Linked DNA regions of Homo sapiens: region 1 is reported to be linked to region 2. The links are microRNA targets in miRTarBase. Many come from high-throughput screens and were not tested one by one. Region 2 holds a microRNA gene; the other region holds the end of a gene's coding sequence.

Evidence for each region. Region 2 holds the annotated microRNA hsa-miR-4279 (CUCUCCUCCCGGCUUC, at 2,284-2,299, shown strand). A microRNA usually pairs through its seed, bases 2 to 8, with sites in the 3' UTR of a target mRNA and lowers its output. Matches are read on the target gene's strand: a 7mer-m8 pairs with bases 2 to 8, a 7mer-A1 pairs with bases 2 to 7 and ends in A, and an 8mer does both.
Region 1: miRTarBase lists KIAA1614 as a target of hsa-miR-4279. Seed matches in the 3' UTR shown: 7mer-A1 at 1,386-1,392, 7mer-m8 at 1,535-1,541 and 7mer-m8 at 5,045-5,051.

What each region holds. Positions count from the first base shown.
Region 1 is chr1:180,944,624-180,952,844 of GRCh38, forward strand. It overlaps KIAA1614, which reads left to right. Exons shown (of 9, transcript NM_020950.2): 9 at 680-6,991. The coding sequence ends at 965. It overlaps KIAA1614-AS1 (KIAA1614 antisense RNA 1), which reads right to left. Exons shown (of 2, transcript NR_145481.1): 2 at 5,067-6,295. Among named protein-coding and RNA genes, the nearest start is that of KIAA1614-AS1, 6.2 kb to the right of the region's middle. RefSeq lists an enhancer at 4,802-5,352.
Region 2 is chr5:31,930,190-31,938,410 of GRCh38, reverse strand. MIR4279 (microRNA 4279) reads left to right here and starts at 2,252; the gene lies at 2,252-2,309. All of the region lies in intron 2 of PDZD2 (PDZ domain containing 2), which reads right to left.

The DNA.
Region 1 (8,221 bases), not on the chromosome of region 2:
GAAGGGAAAGCAACAGGACATGTGATGTGTGGAGACGAGGCTGCCACGGGAGTCTCAGCACCTCAGTGCCCTGCATGGACCCTCGGTGCATTGGGCTCTGAGAAGGCCTGGGGTCGCTGGAGGGGGTAGAGTTGGCCGGTTTGATTCCACTGTCCCTCTGCTGTGCAATGACATCTTGAAATCAGAAAGTTTAGAGAGTTTTCTTAGCCCAGCTAAAGATCTGAATAAACACATAGAGACAGAGGCCCCCAAAGAGGCCCGTGACCCATGACCTGCTTGGAAAATCCCACCCTGTCCGATGAGGCCCTGTAGGCTGGCTGCTCTTTCCTGGGGCGTGGATGTACTTCAGGGTGTATGTTAGCTCCTGGAAATGTGACATAAAGTTATACCTTTTGTCAGATTCTTACAAAGGTCTCTGTACCCCCCAAAATTTGAAACCACTGCTTTGGGAGGGTGGGGTTTCTAGTTCCACAGCAGGCCTTGGGGGGCCTTGCACAGCGGCGGAAACCCACCAGTTTTGGCCCTAGCAGGCTCTTTTTGCTGGCTGAAGTCAGCAGAACCCCAGCCTCCAATGCCAGGCTCTTAAGTCTGTGAGGCATCGGTCATCTGTAAGCCAGGGAAGAGCTGTGCCCAGTGCCTGATGCTTTTTGCCCTCACTGTGTCTCTGGTTCCCTCGCAGGCCGGCCAAGACTTCACCACGGCGTGCCCTCAGTGTGGAGGACGTGGGTGCTCCCAGCCTGGCTCGCACCGTGGGCCGCCTGGTGGAGGTGTTCCCAGACGGCACCAGCCAGCTGCAGCTGCAGCGCTCCCCAGGGGGCACTTTCGGCTTCTGCGTGGCCTCTGGGAATGGGCGCCCAGACTCAGGTATGCCCTCTCCTCTTCCTCAGCCCCATGGCTGGGGCGGCCTTAGCAAACAAGGCAGGGCCTTCTGGCTGTGGTCAGAGGCTTTTCTGGTCTTTGGCTGAGCCGTGCAGCTCTGGGAATTCAGAAAGCCTCTGACTACAGGACTAGGCTTCTCCCCTCAGGGGCTCTTTCTGAATTGTCCAGGGCTCTCTAGGAGTCTGCACCTGCAGAGCCTTTGCCCTAGGCAACTGCAGCTGAGAGTGCGTTGGTGGGGAGTGTGCGGGAGGGGGTAGAGTTGGCAGGTTTGACTCCACTGTCCCCCTGCTGTCTGATGACATCTTGAAATTAGAAGCTTAGGCCGGGCGCAGTGGCTCATGCCTGTAATCCCAGAACTTTGGGAGGCCGAGGCGCCTGGATCACCTGAGGTCAGGAGTTCGAGACCAGTCTGGCCCACATGGTGAAACCCATGTCTACTAAAAATACAAAATTAGCTGGGCGTGGTGGCGCATGCCTATAATCCCAGCTACTTGGGAGGCTGAGGCAGGAGAATTGCTTGAACCCGGGAGGTAGAGGTTGCAGTGAGCCGAGATTGCGCCATTGCACTCCAGCCTGGGCAACAAGAGCAAAACTTCATCTCAAAGGAAAAAAAAAAAGAAATAAATAAATTAGAATTTTGAAGGCCATCTTTGCAGAGGAGAGCCAGAGGGAAACTGTCTGTGCCTGCTGGTTCTCAGCAGTCCCTTTGATGTGGCTGCGTTGAAACGGTTCCTTTCCTCCGGCTGTGGAGTATGTCTGGGCACGTGGAGCATGCCTGTCTGTCTCTGCATCCCGTCCCTCCCTCAGGCCTGTGCCCGATGATTATGTTCAGATGAATCCTGGCTGCAGGCCTCTGACTGGGGTGTGCTCTGGGTCTCAATTCAACCCAGGCAATGGCAGGGAGAAGTCCTGGACATCATTCTGCACTCTGACCAGTTCTCAGTTCCACCCCATCCATGAGTCTTTCAGGGCAACGTGACTTGCAAAAGCCCACGCCCAAGGTCTGTGGTCCAGAATGCATCTCAAGGGCCCATAAAAGACATTCCCCAGAGGATCAGGGAAGGAAGACACGTATGTGAGGGTGGGGAAGGAGGGGAGGGGAAGGAAGGAGAGAGAAAGGGAGAGACAGATACAGAAAGACGAACACAGAAGCCTGCTGCGGCCGGGCTCTGCCGATGGGGGGTTGAGTCCTGTGCTTTGATCTCCTAGCTCAATGCTGTTTAGCCTGGAAAAAAGTCTGCCTGCTACCACATTTGCAGACCACAGCATGAGTTCTCATGTCTGTTCCATCATTGTTTCAGCAAATATATACTAAGCACCTACTATGTGTTATAGATACGGGGGATACAGCAGTAAATGGAACAGACCAAATCCCTATCCTCATGAATATACTACCCAGTGAGCAGTTAGATTGTATCTATAAAATGTGTACTCTTGTTATGTATAATGTGCTACGTATGTCAGATGGTGAAAAGAAAGTTCTGAGAAACAGACAGATAAAGCAGGTGTGGCAGGTGCTGGTATAGACAGGAGTGTGGGGAGGCTTTTCTGAGAAGATGACACTTGAGCAGGGCCGTGGATGGGGCGAGGAAGGGGCCCCATGGGTGTCTGGGGAAGAGCATTCCGGCAGACTGAACAGCAAGTGCGGAGCCCTGGTGGAGGGGCGAGCCTGGCCTGTGAGAACTGTGAGGGTCAGGCTGGACACTGCAGAGCAGGCAACGGGTTGGGAGGAGCAGAGTTTGGAAAGATGGGGTTGTGCCACTGTAAGGGGCTTTGGCTTTCATGCCGAATGAGATGGGAGCCACTAGAGGGCTCGGAGCGAGCACTGAGACTCTCTAATGTCTATGAGAATAGACCCCAGTGGGACACGGGTGGAGCCAGGGAGCCCTGTGTTGAAGCTATTTCAGCAGTCCAGGACAGAGACAGTGGTGCCTGGACTGGGAACGGCTGTGGAGATGGGGAGAGGGGAGAGGGGACAGGGGTTGGATTCTGGTTGATTTGACTATTTGCTGATGAGCTGGACATGTAAGAGGAAGAGAGGACAGGTCTCTGCCTACTCTGGACCTCAGGAGGATAAAAAGTCCTTCCTCACAGGCCTTCCCGTAGCCTCCTCTCCCGTTAGGGGAGCAGGACAGGCCCCCCGGACAGGTGGTGTGAAGGCAGAGGCAGACAACGCAGCATGTTTGTGCTCCGGCACCTCTGCTGGCTATGTGATCTAGAGCAGGCGACATCCCCACTGAGCCTCACTCAGTTCCCTAATCTGTGAAATGAGGATGACAAAACCTACCTAGAAGAGTCATAAGGAGCATTTGGTAAGGCACACAGGAAAGGGCCTAGCATTTTTCTTCCCTCCCCTTCAGAAAGAGAAAGTCTGGGGAAGAGAACCCCAGACAGGGACCAGCGTGATCCGCATTCACCTGTCGATGTGAGTGCACACACAACAGGTCATTGTACTCTGCCGCCCACCCTCCCCCAGAGTCCCTTTTTGCTCCCTTGTAGGCAGTGGGAGCCCCTCCCTGTCACCCGTCAGGGAGCTCTGATGGGCAGGGGTCTCTAGTGACCCAGGGCCCCCGGCACCCTCGCCTGAGTTGGTGCCAGCTCCCCGTTGTGCCCAGGCACTCCCTGGTCCTGCTGCCATCATGGGCGCTGGATGGCACACAGGGGTCCCCACGCACATGAAGCCTGGCGAGTGCTGGGGCCTCCGTGTCCCAGGCCATCCTCCAACAGCAGAGGGTCGCTTCTTCCAGGCTCCAAGGGGCTGTGAGGAGGGCTGGCTTGCGCCCCGCACTGAACCGGCAGGATGCTGGTATTAACTTGCTGGCTTTCACATCCGACTCTATATGAGCCTGTGAGAACAGCAGGCTTTGCCTTCTGCTTCTAATTGGATACAACATAGAGATCACACATCCTCAACAAAGGCCATTTCCAGCAGACAATAAATGCCTATGACAGCAGGCTGTCATATTTGTGTCACGAATTTCAGTTGCGAAACCTACCCGAGTCTCCCCAAAATGGCAGGCGTGACGTCAGTGTCTGGCCTAGCTCTGGCAGCATTCTTTCAGGGTTTATCATTAGTCCCCACCTGCAACTCCCACAGCACATCAGACACTTCTCTGGGTTTGCCCCAGGGGCCCCTTCTTACCTGCCCCCTCCCCGTGCCACCAACCCGTAGACAGGGAGGGCAAGCAGTGAAAGGTCCATCTAGAGGAGGTAAAAGACAGGGCTGAGGGAAAACGCCTTGTACAGTCAGGATGGCAGATGTACTCTGTCAGGGAAGACAGCCCCACAGAAAAGGCTCGGCTTGGCCAAGAAGCAACAAAAGGGATTCTACACCTCAGACCAGGGAGGGGGAATGTGTACAAAGATTGGATTTACTAAATTCAGAGCCACAGACTTTCAGGTACTTCGGTGAAGATCAGTGCTCTTTCAAACCCACACTTCAGAGGCAGGCTTTAAAACGCCTGACTTCTGTCAGGGCCACAGGCTGGGCTGCCCAAAGCTCCTACGGGGCTGGGGGATCCGAGAGAGGACTTCCCACTAGTCCAAGATGTGGTGACTAGTTTCAAGCCAGAGATTGAGGAGCAGACCTGATGCCCTTTCGGGCCCCTGCTAAGAACCTGATTCGAGGAAAAGGAAGTGAAGACAGTAACGCGTGGGCAGTGGCCTCATGTCTGAAATGCAGAGTGAGCCGAGCTGGGCTGCGAACAGCGAGGGTGCCAAAGGCTGCGCTGAGCAGCCTGAATTCCGCCAGTGCTGATGCCCACACCAGGGGTGTGCCCCGCAGTCCCTCCAGCAAACTCAGCTTGTGTCTCAGCCCCTGTGTCCACCCAGCATGAAGCATGGGCATCAGGGGGTCCAGCCTGCCCTGGGAGAGCCAGCACCTCACTTACTCTCCCAGGTGGGAGCAGCTGGAGGGGAATTTGAAAGGTTTCCAGCCGCGGTTGAGGCCGGCGGGCGGGGGTTGGGGGCAGGGGGCCTCCTCAGCTGGACACTTCCCAGCCCAGCCAGCCCAAGCCCCACAGGGCCTGCCCCACTGACGGGGGGCTCCCTGAGAGCCGGAGCCTGGCAAAGAAGCAGAGAAGCTAGTTCCCGCAGGCTGGCTCTTGGCACCTTCTAGACCCAGGCAGGGCCTCTTTGGGGTGGGGAGGAGGGGGCATGTGCAGAAGAGGAGAGGGAGCCACCGCAGCTTTGAAATATGTGGCTAGAATTTTTATTTTTCCTGGGGTTTTTTGCTCAGATGCTTCCCCATCCCAATTGAGGAGCCATATCTGAGTAAGACTGAGGCCAGTGTCAGTCTTTGGCAATAGAGTGCAGCAAACCAGGCTTGGATGTGGCTCAGCCACTTTTGCTCTTCCGATGATACCTTCCCACCACCCCGGCCTTTACGCTGGGCCTGGGTGACCTGAGGCAGCAACTGGATCATAGTGCCAGGCACTGAGTAGGTATGGTTCCTAATTTTTAAAAACTATTTTCCTCCCAATTCTACAAGAAAAGCTCATCTCAGAAAAAGATTAGCTCACTCACTGTCAGGTATAAATAAATGACAACAGTTTAACGCGTTATTTGCACTAGGAGCATTTCCACTTTAAAAGCAGAGACAGTGGAATGGAGTTAGACCATGGAGGAGGCGCACTGTATCTATGTCTAAAGCCAGTTGTGGTTGTGAGATGGAATAATGAGGGGTGTGTGTATGTGTGCATGCGCACAGAGAAGTGCCTGGTATGAGCACCTCCTCCCTGTGCCACACAAACAGCACCTCATCAACATGGTCAGCATTCCAGAGATGCACTTCTTCGATTTGGGTGTCATTGTGAAATTCTCCTGTTTTCCTCTGCAGGGATCTACGTGCAGGAGATGGCTGACATGAGCATGGCCAAGCTGTACTCAGGGCTGCTGGGGGTGGGCGATGAGATCCTCGAGGTGAACGGGGCCAAGGTGGCAGGGCTGGGCTTGGCTCACATTAAGGAGCTCCTGGCCCACTCAGAGAGCTTGTCAATCCGTGTCCTGAGGCAGAGACCTGTCCCACGGTGACCCAGAAGTGCCGCTGCCCTCACTGTCACGGCCTCGGAAGCCCTGAAGCACTCAGGGTGGTTGGCAGGAACGTGCTGCACAGAGCTGCTCTGTGGCGGAAACAGATCCTGGCAGCATCTAACCCCTTGGGCTGTGGCAGGGCTTCTGTGGTGGGCTGCCTTTGGGAGACGCAAGGAGCCTGTTTGCATATTTTGTTTAAGGCCATTTATCCAGAACTAGAAAAAGAAAAAAATGGGTCTCCTTCCATGTCTGAGGGGGTGTCAACATCTACTTGTACCTTTGTTGGCAGGGGGAGAAGGGAGATTCAGTGGATCCTTTGGTTGATGCCTGAGAGCCGGCCTCACCTCCTGGTCCCATGCCTGGTCAAAGGCTACAGCCTCCAACACTGTGGAACCAAAGAAAGCACATGTCCATATTGGCCTTGACCCTTCCCTATTTCAGCCACGTTCCTCCCTACTCCATTCACTGCCCTTGCCCTTTATCCAGAAATGGGCAAAGTGTCCCGGAATACCAGCCTTACAGCCATTGACCATATATGCCAAACCAAAATCAGAACGTGTGGTCTGGCAGGAGTTTTATGCCCCTTCGGGGTGTGGGAATTCTGGGAGATGTTATCTGGTAGCCAGAATATTAAAAATTTCTAGGAAAATTTTTTTATACATAAAGTTGAAAACAACAACAACAACAACAAAGACCAATTTCAGGACGTGCTACTGTGGTAGCCAGGATCCAGCTAGTGGGACCGGCCAGACCAGCCCCATGCCACCCCGGCCGCTGCCTCTGCCCAGGTGGAGGCAAGAGTTGCTGCAACCTGACCTGTGGCAGCCTCCATCTTAGTTCTGTCCAGCTTGGAGACAGGGCTGCGGCAGGTGCCTGGCCATCACAGCTGCATGCTTTCTGCCCAGACCTCCTGGCGGTGCTGTCGGTGGGCAGGTGGGTGGGTGGGCAGCAGGGAAGCTGCAGAGCGCGGCTGGGCCATCTGCCTGGGCCTCAGTGCTGCCTGGAGGGCTGGGACTCTTTGGGAGTGGATGGCCATGTGTCAGTCTTAACTTACTAAAAAGCAAAGCTAAAGCTTCTCTCACTCTGAGTTGCTAAATTCTCGGCTGGACACTCACTTGACCCTCACTAGCCATGGGCAGGACCAGGGAGTGGGGTGCTGGTGGTGGGCATGCCAGAGGAAAGGCTGGGGAGGCCACGGGTTAGGGTGACAGCCAGGGTAGATGCAGAAGCCTCCAGACCGTCCTTTGGCAAAAGAAAAGCCCTGGACAAGGTTTATGACCAGGAGAGAAGAAGCCAAGGGACTCTAGCTGGGCACAACTGAGGAGTGGAATAGGAAGTTCAGGGCTGTTTTAGAACTGGCCAGGGTGCCAGCTGTGGTTAAAAAAAAAAAAAAATCCTGGAACCAAGAAACCCAACCCTCAGCAGAATCGGGTTTAAAAGAGTGTCAGGGCAGCTTTCATTGGGCAAGAACACTGAAGCAGGCCTGTGGCCCAGGGACAAGGTCGTGGGGGTGGGGAGGCAGTCCTGTGCAGTGTTGGGAGTGTGTTCCCCCACCCAGGGCCTTTGCAGCAGGAGCCAGGTAGAACCCTGTCTTCATGATGCCCATGGGAGGAGAGGGAGGGGCTGAGCCCCATGGCTCACAGAATGGGGTAGGGGGGTGGAGGAGGAATTAGGGGGATCTGGCAGGTGAGCAGAGGGGCCAGAGGAACAAGTGCTTGGGGCTTCAGGCTGTGAAGAGGGCACTGGCACTCTTCAAAGTGTAGAAATGAGCCCACAGCAAGAAACTTCAAGTGTGGAGAAACCCTGGCTCCTCCTATACTGCAATTCTTGGCCTAAGGTCACAAAACTGGAGAAATTTCATGTTGAGAAAAGCTCCTGGGGGCCAAAGACAGCTCCACTTTTCTCTGAAAAGGACAACTTGCCTTCCCAGGTGGGAGGAGGTGGAAGGGGGTGGCTGGGGCTGGGAGGACGGGAAAAGGCCTCAGGCGTATCACCTCCCGGGCTGGTGACATACTTAGTCCTTAAATAGTCCTGCCAGGTATGTCCTGCTCATTGTCTTCATTTTGCATAGATGGGGAACCAAGTTCAGCAGCAGTGACAGGGCATGCAATCCTGCCCCTCTGACTTGGGGCCCACTTTTCCCACTGCAGCTGCCTCCCCATGCCAGAAAAGGCTTGGTGCTAGGGGAGGGGCACGAGGCACGCGGGACACTGGAGGCTCCCAGGCCTCTGGACGGTGACCTAATTCCAAGGAGGCAAAGGCGCTGGCATCCCAGCTTCTCCCTGGGGCAGCCTGATGTGCAGGCCCTGCC
Region 2 (8,221 bases):
GGACCCTGCAGAAAAGCTTCAACTTCCTAACTCCTGAATCTACCCATTTGGAGGCGATGGCACCAATACAGACTAAGAAACTAAAATCAGTTTCCCAAACAAGAGCCCATTCAAATTGCTGAGGGCTTAACTTGCTGCATCAACCCACTGATCACATTATTCACCAATGATATTAAAAAATCAACAGGTCAAGGTGGAGTGCTGGGAGCAGTGGCTCACACCTGTAATCCTAGCACTTTGGGAGGCCGAGGTGGGCAGATCACTTGAGGTCAAAAGTTTGACACCAATCTGGCCAACAGAGTGAAACTCTGTCTCTAAATGGGGGCGGAAATCAACAGACCAACCAGCAAACCAGCAAATGTTTTTTTCTAAAGATCGGATAGGCTTTGTGGGTCACTATCTCTGTCCTATATTCTTCTTTGTTTCTTCAACTCTTCAAAACATAAAACACATTCTTAGCTCCCAGGCCATACAAAAACAGGCTAGGGCAGTCTGGATTTGCCTAAGGGCCATAGCTTGCTGAACACCGCTTCCAGCAGGAACCCTGGGAAGGAACCTGTCCCCAACACAGCTTCTAAGTCACTGCAGATAGCACCTGGGACAGATCAGTCTGAAGGATGGGAGACAAAGGGGACACACACAACAGGTGAACAGTAGGCAAGAAAGGACAAGAGTTGGGGTGGCGACGGTAGGAACATGGGGTGAAAAAGTTTTCTAAAAGACCACAGGAGGTGCCGTTCCTCCTCCCATAGAAGGCTAGCTGTGTAATGCTGAGAAATCACACGGAAAGAGAGACTAGCAATGATGTGTGGGCTTGCTTGACTAAACACAGCCATCCCCCAGCCCTCCAGGACTAAAATGCAAAGCCACAAAACGTGGCCACCACGGCATGAGGATGACCACAGCATGAGGATGCCAGCCAGGCAGTAAGCAGTAACCCAAGCAGCTCCCAATTTTGCCTTTTCAGACACACCCCTGTGGCTACGGGGCATTCTCCAAACCTCAACGCAAACAGTTCCAGGATTCAGGCTGGGCTATTCTACCGAAACAAAATTCTCCACCTACCTCTGACGTTCTTCTCAGGCTGACCACACGCACCATTTCTATCCAACCTCCTCCATGTTAGCCCAATCCCCCAACACCCTGGCCACTTCATTAGTGAGGGAAAACATGTCAGATCATCCCAGTGCCCAGGAGAAGCAAGGCCTAGAAATGATTCAGAACCTGGGGCTGGAGATGATCTTTATTCTGTTCTACTTCTCTTATCACAAGCCCCAAACCTTGACAACGGAAGGAACACCCTGAGACTCGGCTACAATCATGGGAATCAAAAATCAGTTTTAAAATTATCCTTGCATGTGGCTGCCACCCATGGTCCTCCCCATTTATTTTCTACTTCTGAGTGTGAAACGTCACTGTGACAGTTTCCAACCCTCTGCACTCCCCCCACTCCATGACAAATATTCAGGATTCACACTTCACTTTCACACTGCTTTCCAATCCCTTGACTTAGAAGCCGAGCAGAGGCAGCCTGCCTTAATGGAGAAAACATTAGTGCATTCGGGCTTCACTCTGGATCCCAGTCAATTTCTGGATATTTCACAGCTGTTATACATCCACCTCCTTTCTTACAAAAGCCAGCAAAAATTAGTGAGCACCTCGTTGGCTCTGAAATATGAAAATGGAGCCACAGTCAAGCCTGAAAATCGGTTTCTGGTTGACTCCCTTCAAAGTATTTGTTCTAAAACACAGTGTCTGCAGTTCATTTATCATCTGCCAATTTTTAAATGAGTTTAAATTAAAAAAGCTTCAATGCTGCATGCTTTTTTTCTTTTTTTTTTTTTAAAGCAACTCTCAGAATAAAACTGTCATTTGGTCATCACACTAGTAACTGAGAGAACTCTTGCTTGGGCAGATATCAGCACAATTCAAGCTGAGTCTTTTATGTTATTATTACCTGCTCATCTCTCATATAATTAAAAAATAATAAACCCTTGGAAGACCTGTAAGTTGTGTTCAGAGAGAAAATGTGATTCTCTTCACCACTCAGGTCTCCCGTCCTACCTGCTTTATGAGCTGGTCAGGTGAGCGTGCTCTGCTGTGCTTCAGCAGCCTCTGGAATGGGACAGACTCCAAAGTTGGTTGTGCTTCACTTCCCTTCTCCATTCAGGTCTTTAAAGTCCTGGGTTATTAACTATCAACAAAAATACAAGCTGCGCCATGCGTGCTCCAACTTCCTGCCAGCTCCCCATGCTCTGTGGAGCTGAGGAGCAGATTCTCTCTCTCTCCTCCCGGCTTCACCTCCTGAGCTCCAGAGCCCCACCCACCCACAGCACTCAGATCATTTTTCATTTATGAATGCATCCAGCCACGCTGTGTTTGTAAGAGAAGGAGCCAATCCTTGCCCTGCCAGTGTATTGGAACCAGGCTGCTATAAACGGTTCTAATTTTCCAGGAGTATGGGGGGAAATCATATCCCAGCAGACATCATGCATGGCTTCCTCCTGCAGGTATCTGCAGATCAGCTCTTCCATCACCAAAGGACGCACACTTGGCCACGGACCACAGCTGCTTCATTCTACAGACTGCCAGGGAGGAGGACTGAAGATTTCAGGCAGGAGAAAACCAAAATACTATCAAAATGTGTACTTCACATAACTAAAAATGTGAAGCTAGGATGATCAGTGAAGAAACTTTCCACTCAGTGACCTGATATTTCACAATACATTTAATCTGTCTTGCACTTATTAAAGGGCCAGATTTTTTTTTAAATTGCATCCAAATGCAAACAAAAATCAAGGGGTTAAATTATTTTATAAAGAAGTCTGTTGGGAAATAAAAGCCATTTGTCTTGATGACACCAAATTTACAACTTTTCTACTCCGACTAAGCTTCCAACTTCCATTGTAGACAAGTACTAGCAAAACCAGAAATTATCAGTCAGCCCTTGAGTTGCTGAAAAAATCCTCAACTTTTAAACACAATATGATTTTTCTAAGGTTTTATCAGGAAATAGAATGTTAAAAAATAGGCTTCCCTAAACCAACACACATATATAGTAGTTTCTATTATGGGTAAAATTTGCCTTGTTTTACAGCTGAAGCCAAAGGGGTCTTTCATGATCCAACAGCCAGAGACAAAGATTCCAAAAACCTTTGGTGCAGGTATAAAAATGTACATGTGCAACTTAAATGGGAATGACATTTTATTATTCCAATACTCACAAGGTCCTTTGTTAGCTATACTTGTAAGGAACAAAATAGGAGCAAACATCCTCTGTTTACTTCTTGCAGCCATTCTATTTTCTTTCTTTTTTTTTTTTTGAGACAGGGTCTGGCTCTGTTGCCCAGGTGGGAGTGCAGTGGAGTAATCTCGGCCCACTGCAACCTCCATCTTCCGGGTTCAAGAGATTCTCCTGCCTCAACCTCCTGGAGTAGCTGGGATTACAGGCGCCCGCCACCATGCCCAGATATTTTTTGTATTTTTAGTAGAGATGGGGTTTCACCATGTTGGTCAAGCTGGTCTCAAACTCCTGGTCTCAAGTGATCTGCCCATCTCGGCCTCCCAAAGTTCTGGGATTACAGGTGTGAGCCACCACTGCTGGCCAGATTTTTGGTGTTTTTTAGTATATTCATTTATTTTAGAGTTTTATCCAGTATAAATTTTTCCCCTAGGAGCCTTGTATTGACATAACCTAGTTCCAGTCACAGTGAGACATTTTTGAAATTGCTTCTAAATTTTCCATGTATTAAAAAACTGGTGGTCTAGTATCCGGACTTAAGTCTTTTTTTTTTTTTTTTTTTAATTAGATGGTTCAAATGTCTCCTAAACAGAAAATGCTATACATTTTCTCATGTGCTCCAAATGGATTCTAGCCATCCCAATACCCTAACACATTCTTGAAAACAAAAACAGGATCCGCCTTTTACTGATGAGATAAAGAAGACAGAAAGTCACTAGTATATATGATGTTTCCCTGGTGCGGCAGAGAAAGAACTAATGGGAGGATTAGTTCCTAGTCTCCAAACACCAGCAGGGAGCCCCAGGCAAGTCCACATTTTTTGTGTGCATTCAAGAGGCCTGAAAGTTGATCGTGTGGGTAACTTCCTGGAACTCACCTTCCTAGTTCAGGAAAGCGTGGACTCCTGCTCACAGTTCAAGCTAAGGAGAAGGAAGTCTGCTCTTTAGCTTTTTTTTCTTTTAAAAGAAGTGAGGGAAAAAGATTAAAATTGCCTTGGCCTGTGACCAAACTGCAGTCCTAACAAGAGGTAAAATTTGCCTATAAAATATTCCTGACAGTATTAGTTGGTGACATCTGCCAAAAATCTATGGTAAAACCAGTTATCCTGCCTCTCTTTGTCCCATTCTCTCAACGAAGGGTGGATAATATATAACATATAGTTTTGCTTTAAGGGGAATTACTGCTACATTTACTCACAAAACGAGCCACGTAGCATACACCAGAATTCAGCAAGTACACAAGCCACCTAACCGACCCAAGTTTCTGAATTGCATTATCCATGACAGGCATCTGGGGCTCTGCCTTCTTCGTGTCCACCTTGGTTCCTTGGTCACTGGGCTTAGGAGACCACTGTGCACTCACTGTCCATCACCCGGGAGGGACCCTGAAGATCACTGAGTTCTACTTTCTCATTGCGTTCGTGTGGAAACAGAGGCCCACAGGAACATGAGGAAGCTTTCCAACATCACAGGGCACATTAGTGGAAGTACTGAGGTTACAACGTAAATCTTCCTGATTCAAACTCTAAGATGGTGCCAAGGGGACAAGGTGTGGATCTTTGTAGGCAGGGGCTCAGTAATGGCTGTCCAGCGGGTCACAAAGCCCAGCCTAGGGACACACCTAAGATTCTCCCAGAAGCTAAAACAGAAAGGTAACAAAGAGGGCAATCCCAGAAATCCCCAGCAGGAGTCGATCATACAGCAAAAGCCAAGGGACACCCCAGGTATAAACCCAAGAACCGAAAGCAGACACACGAATGGATATTCACACCCTCGATATTTGTAGCAGCACTGTCCACTCAATAACCAAAAGGTGGAAGCCATCTAAGCATCCACTGATGGATGAATGGATACAGAAAATGTGATACATATGTACAATGGAATACTATTCAGCCGTAAAAAGGAAGGAAATTCTGACACATGCTACTACTTGGATGAGTTTTGAAAAGAAACTATGCTGGCCGGGCGCAGTGGCTCATGGCCTGTAATCCTAGCACTTTGGGAGACCGAGGTGGGTGGATCACTTGAGGTCAGGAGTTCGAGACCAGCCTGGCCAACATGGTGAAACCCCGTCTCTACTAAAAATACAAAAATTGGCCAGGCGTGGTGGCACACATCTGTAATCCCAGCTACTCGGGAGGATGAGGCATGAGAATCACTTGAACCCTGGAGGCAGAGGTTGCAGTGAGCCGAGATTGCACCATAGCACTCCAGCCTGGGCAACAAGAGCGAAACTCTGTCTTAAAAACAAGAAAAAAAAAAAAAGGACACTATGCTAAGTGAAATAAGCCAGTTATAAAAGGACAAACCCTATATGATTTTAATCGTATGAGGCACTCAGAATAGTAAAATTCACAGAGACAGAAAGTAGAATGGTGGTTGCCAGGGGCTGGGGAGAGGAGGAATGGGAAGTTACTGCTTAATGGATCCAGAGTTTCAGTTTTGCAAGAGGAAAAGCCTTCTGGAGATGGATAGTGGTGATGGTTACACAACAGTGTGAATGTACTTAATGCCACAAAACTATACATTTAAATTTATTAAAATGAGAACTTTTATATTAAGTGTGTGAAGTCAATGGAGCCTGGATTTTCTTTCTTTCTTTCTTTCTTTCTTTCTTTTTTTGAGGCAGAGTCTTGCTCTGTCGCCCAGGCTGGAGTGCAGTGGTGCAATCTTGGCTCACTGCAGCCTCCGCCTCCTGGGTTCCAGCGATTCTCCTGCCTCAGCCTCCCGGGTACCTGGGATTACAGGCACACGCCACCACGCCTAGCTAATTTTTGTATTTTTAGTAGAGACGGAGTTTCACCATGTTGGCCAGGCTGGTCTCGAACTCCTGACCTCAGGTGATCTGCCTGCCTCGGCCTCCTAAAGTACAAGGATTACAGGCATGAGCCACTGCACCCGGTTTGGTTTTCTTTACATTTTCTCATTGGCCAGTTCTATGGCTATCATGCTTCATATGCTTGATGTCACAAAATGAAAAGACCATAAAATGCAATTCATAAATGGTCTTAAAAACAACAGGAAGCACTAACATTTCCTTCTCCCCTTTTCCCATCCCCCAGTCAAAAATCACACACAGAAAGTTATGAAAGCAAACAAGGTTTGTTTTCCTGCCCCTTGATGGGAGATGATAATGTCAGCACTGATGGGGAACACCCTGCCAATTGTGCAAGCGGGGAGGACCTTGGCCTGCAAATTTGGGGAGGCAGCTCCCTTCCAACTTCTGCCATTAATGGAAAGGGTTCAGAATCACACCTGAGAAAGCTCCGTGCGGCTGTGGCCCACCCCTCCCCTCCCATCCAGCCCTCCTGGAGTTCACACACCCTCAACTCACACAACGCCGGCAGCATACACTGACACCATCATGCTCTGGGGCCTTCATTGTATACAGATCTGTTTCTTAGCTGTCAAATCTGTCCCATGAGCCATAAGCCTCTAGTGGACAGAGCTGCCTCCAGCTCTCTGGCCCCCTTTTCAGTCTCATTCCTCCTGCCAGGCCAGGGTGGGCCTTGGAGGGGTACCAGCTTCTTCGTTCCTCCCTCCTGTCACCTGGATTATCCCATCTACTTCCATAGCTACAGCAACCAAGTAAGAGCCACCAGCTCCTCAATCTCCATCTCTCTTCTGAGCTCAGACCCTCAACTCCTGCCCAGCTGCAGCTGGGTGTCCTGCAGCCACCTCAAACTCAGCCTGCCCTAAAAAATCTACTATGCGGCCAGGCACAGCGCCTCACGCCTGTAATTCCAGTACTTTGGGAGGTCAAGGCAGGTGGATCACTTGATGTCAGGAGTTCGAAACCAGTCTGGCCAACATGGTGAAACCCCGTCTCTACTAAAAATACAAAAATTAGCCAGGCATAGTGGTGTACGCCTGTCATCCCAGCTACTCAGGAGGCTGAGGCAGGTGGATCACTTGATGTCAGGCGTTCGAAACCAGCCTGGCCAACATGGTGAAACCCCATCTCTACTAAAAATACAAAAATTAGCCAGGTGTGGTGGTACGTGCCTGTAATCCCAGCTACTCAAGAGGCTGAGACAGGAGAATTGCTTGAACCCAGGAGGCAGAGGTTGCAGTGAGCTGAGATCGCGCCACTATACCCCAGCCTGGGCAAAAGAGTGAGACCCTGCCTCAAATAAACAATCCCATTATGCTCTCCCTCAGACAGGTTCCCCCTCCTGTATCTCCTCTTCCAACTCATGCCAATGAGTTCCCTGTCACTGAAGCACAACTGAGTCGCCCTTGGCTCCTCTCTCCCCTCCACCCTTGCTGGTAGGTCCTGTCAACTCCACTTCTTCAGTCTCTCTCACTCCTGACCTCAAGTGATCCACTAGCCTTGGCCTCCCAAAGTACTGGGATTACAGGCCTGAGCCACCGCGTCTGGTCGCATAGTGGGTTTTTTAGGGCATGCCAAGTTTGAGGTCCCCTTCTGCTGTACTGAGTCACACCTTAGGGCCTTGACTCTAGACTACTCTCACCTCCTCAGTTGTCTACCCCTAAAGTATATCCTGCACACAGAGGTATCCAGTGGCAAATACATAACATCTGCTTGAAACACTCAAATAATTTCTCGTTGTCCAAAGGATAACGCCTAAACACCTTGATGCGTATTTGAGACCATTCTTCATCTATTCCTGTGTTATTCAGGCTTTTGTGTCACTATAGGGAAATACCTGGCCGGACGCGGTGGCTCACGCCTGTAATCCCAGCACTTTGGGAGGCCGAGGCGGGCGGATCACGAGGTCAGGAGATCGAGACCATCCTGGCTAACATGGTGAAACCCCATGAAACTCTACTAAAAATACAAAAAAATTAGCCGGGCGTGGTGTAGTCCCAGCTACTTGGGAGACTGAGGCAGGAGAATGGCGTGAACCCGGGAGGCAGAGCTTGCAGTAAGCGGAGATCATGCCACTGCACCCCAGCCTGGGCGACAGAGCGAGACTGTCTCCAAAAAAAAAAAAAAAAAAAAAAAAAAAAGAATACC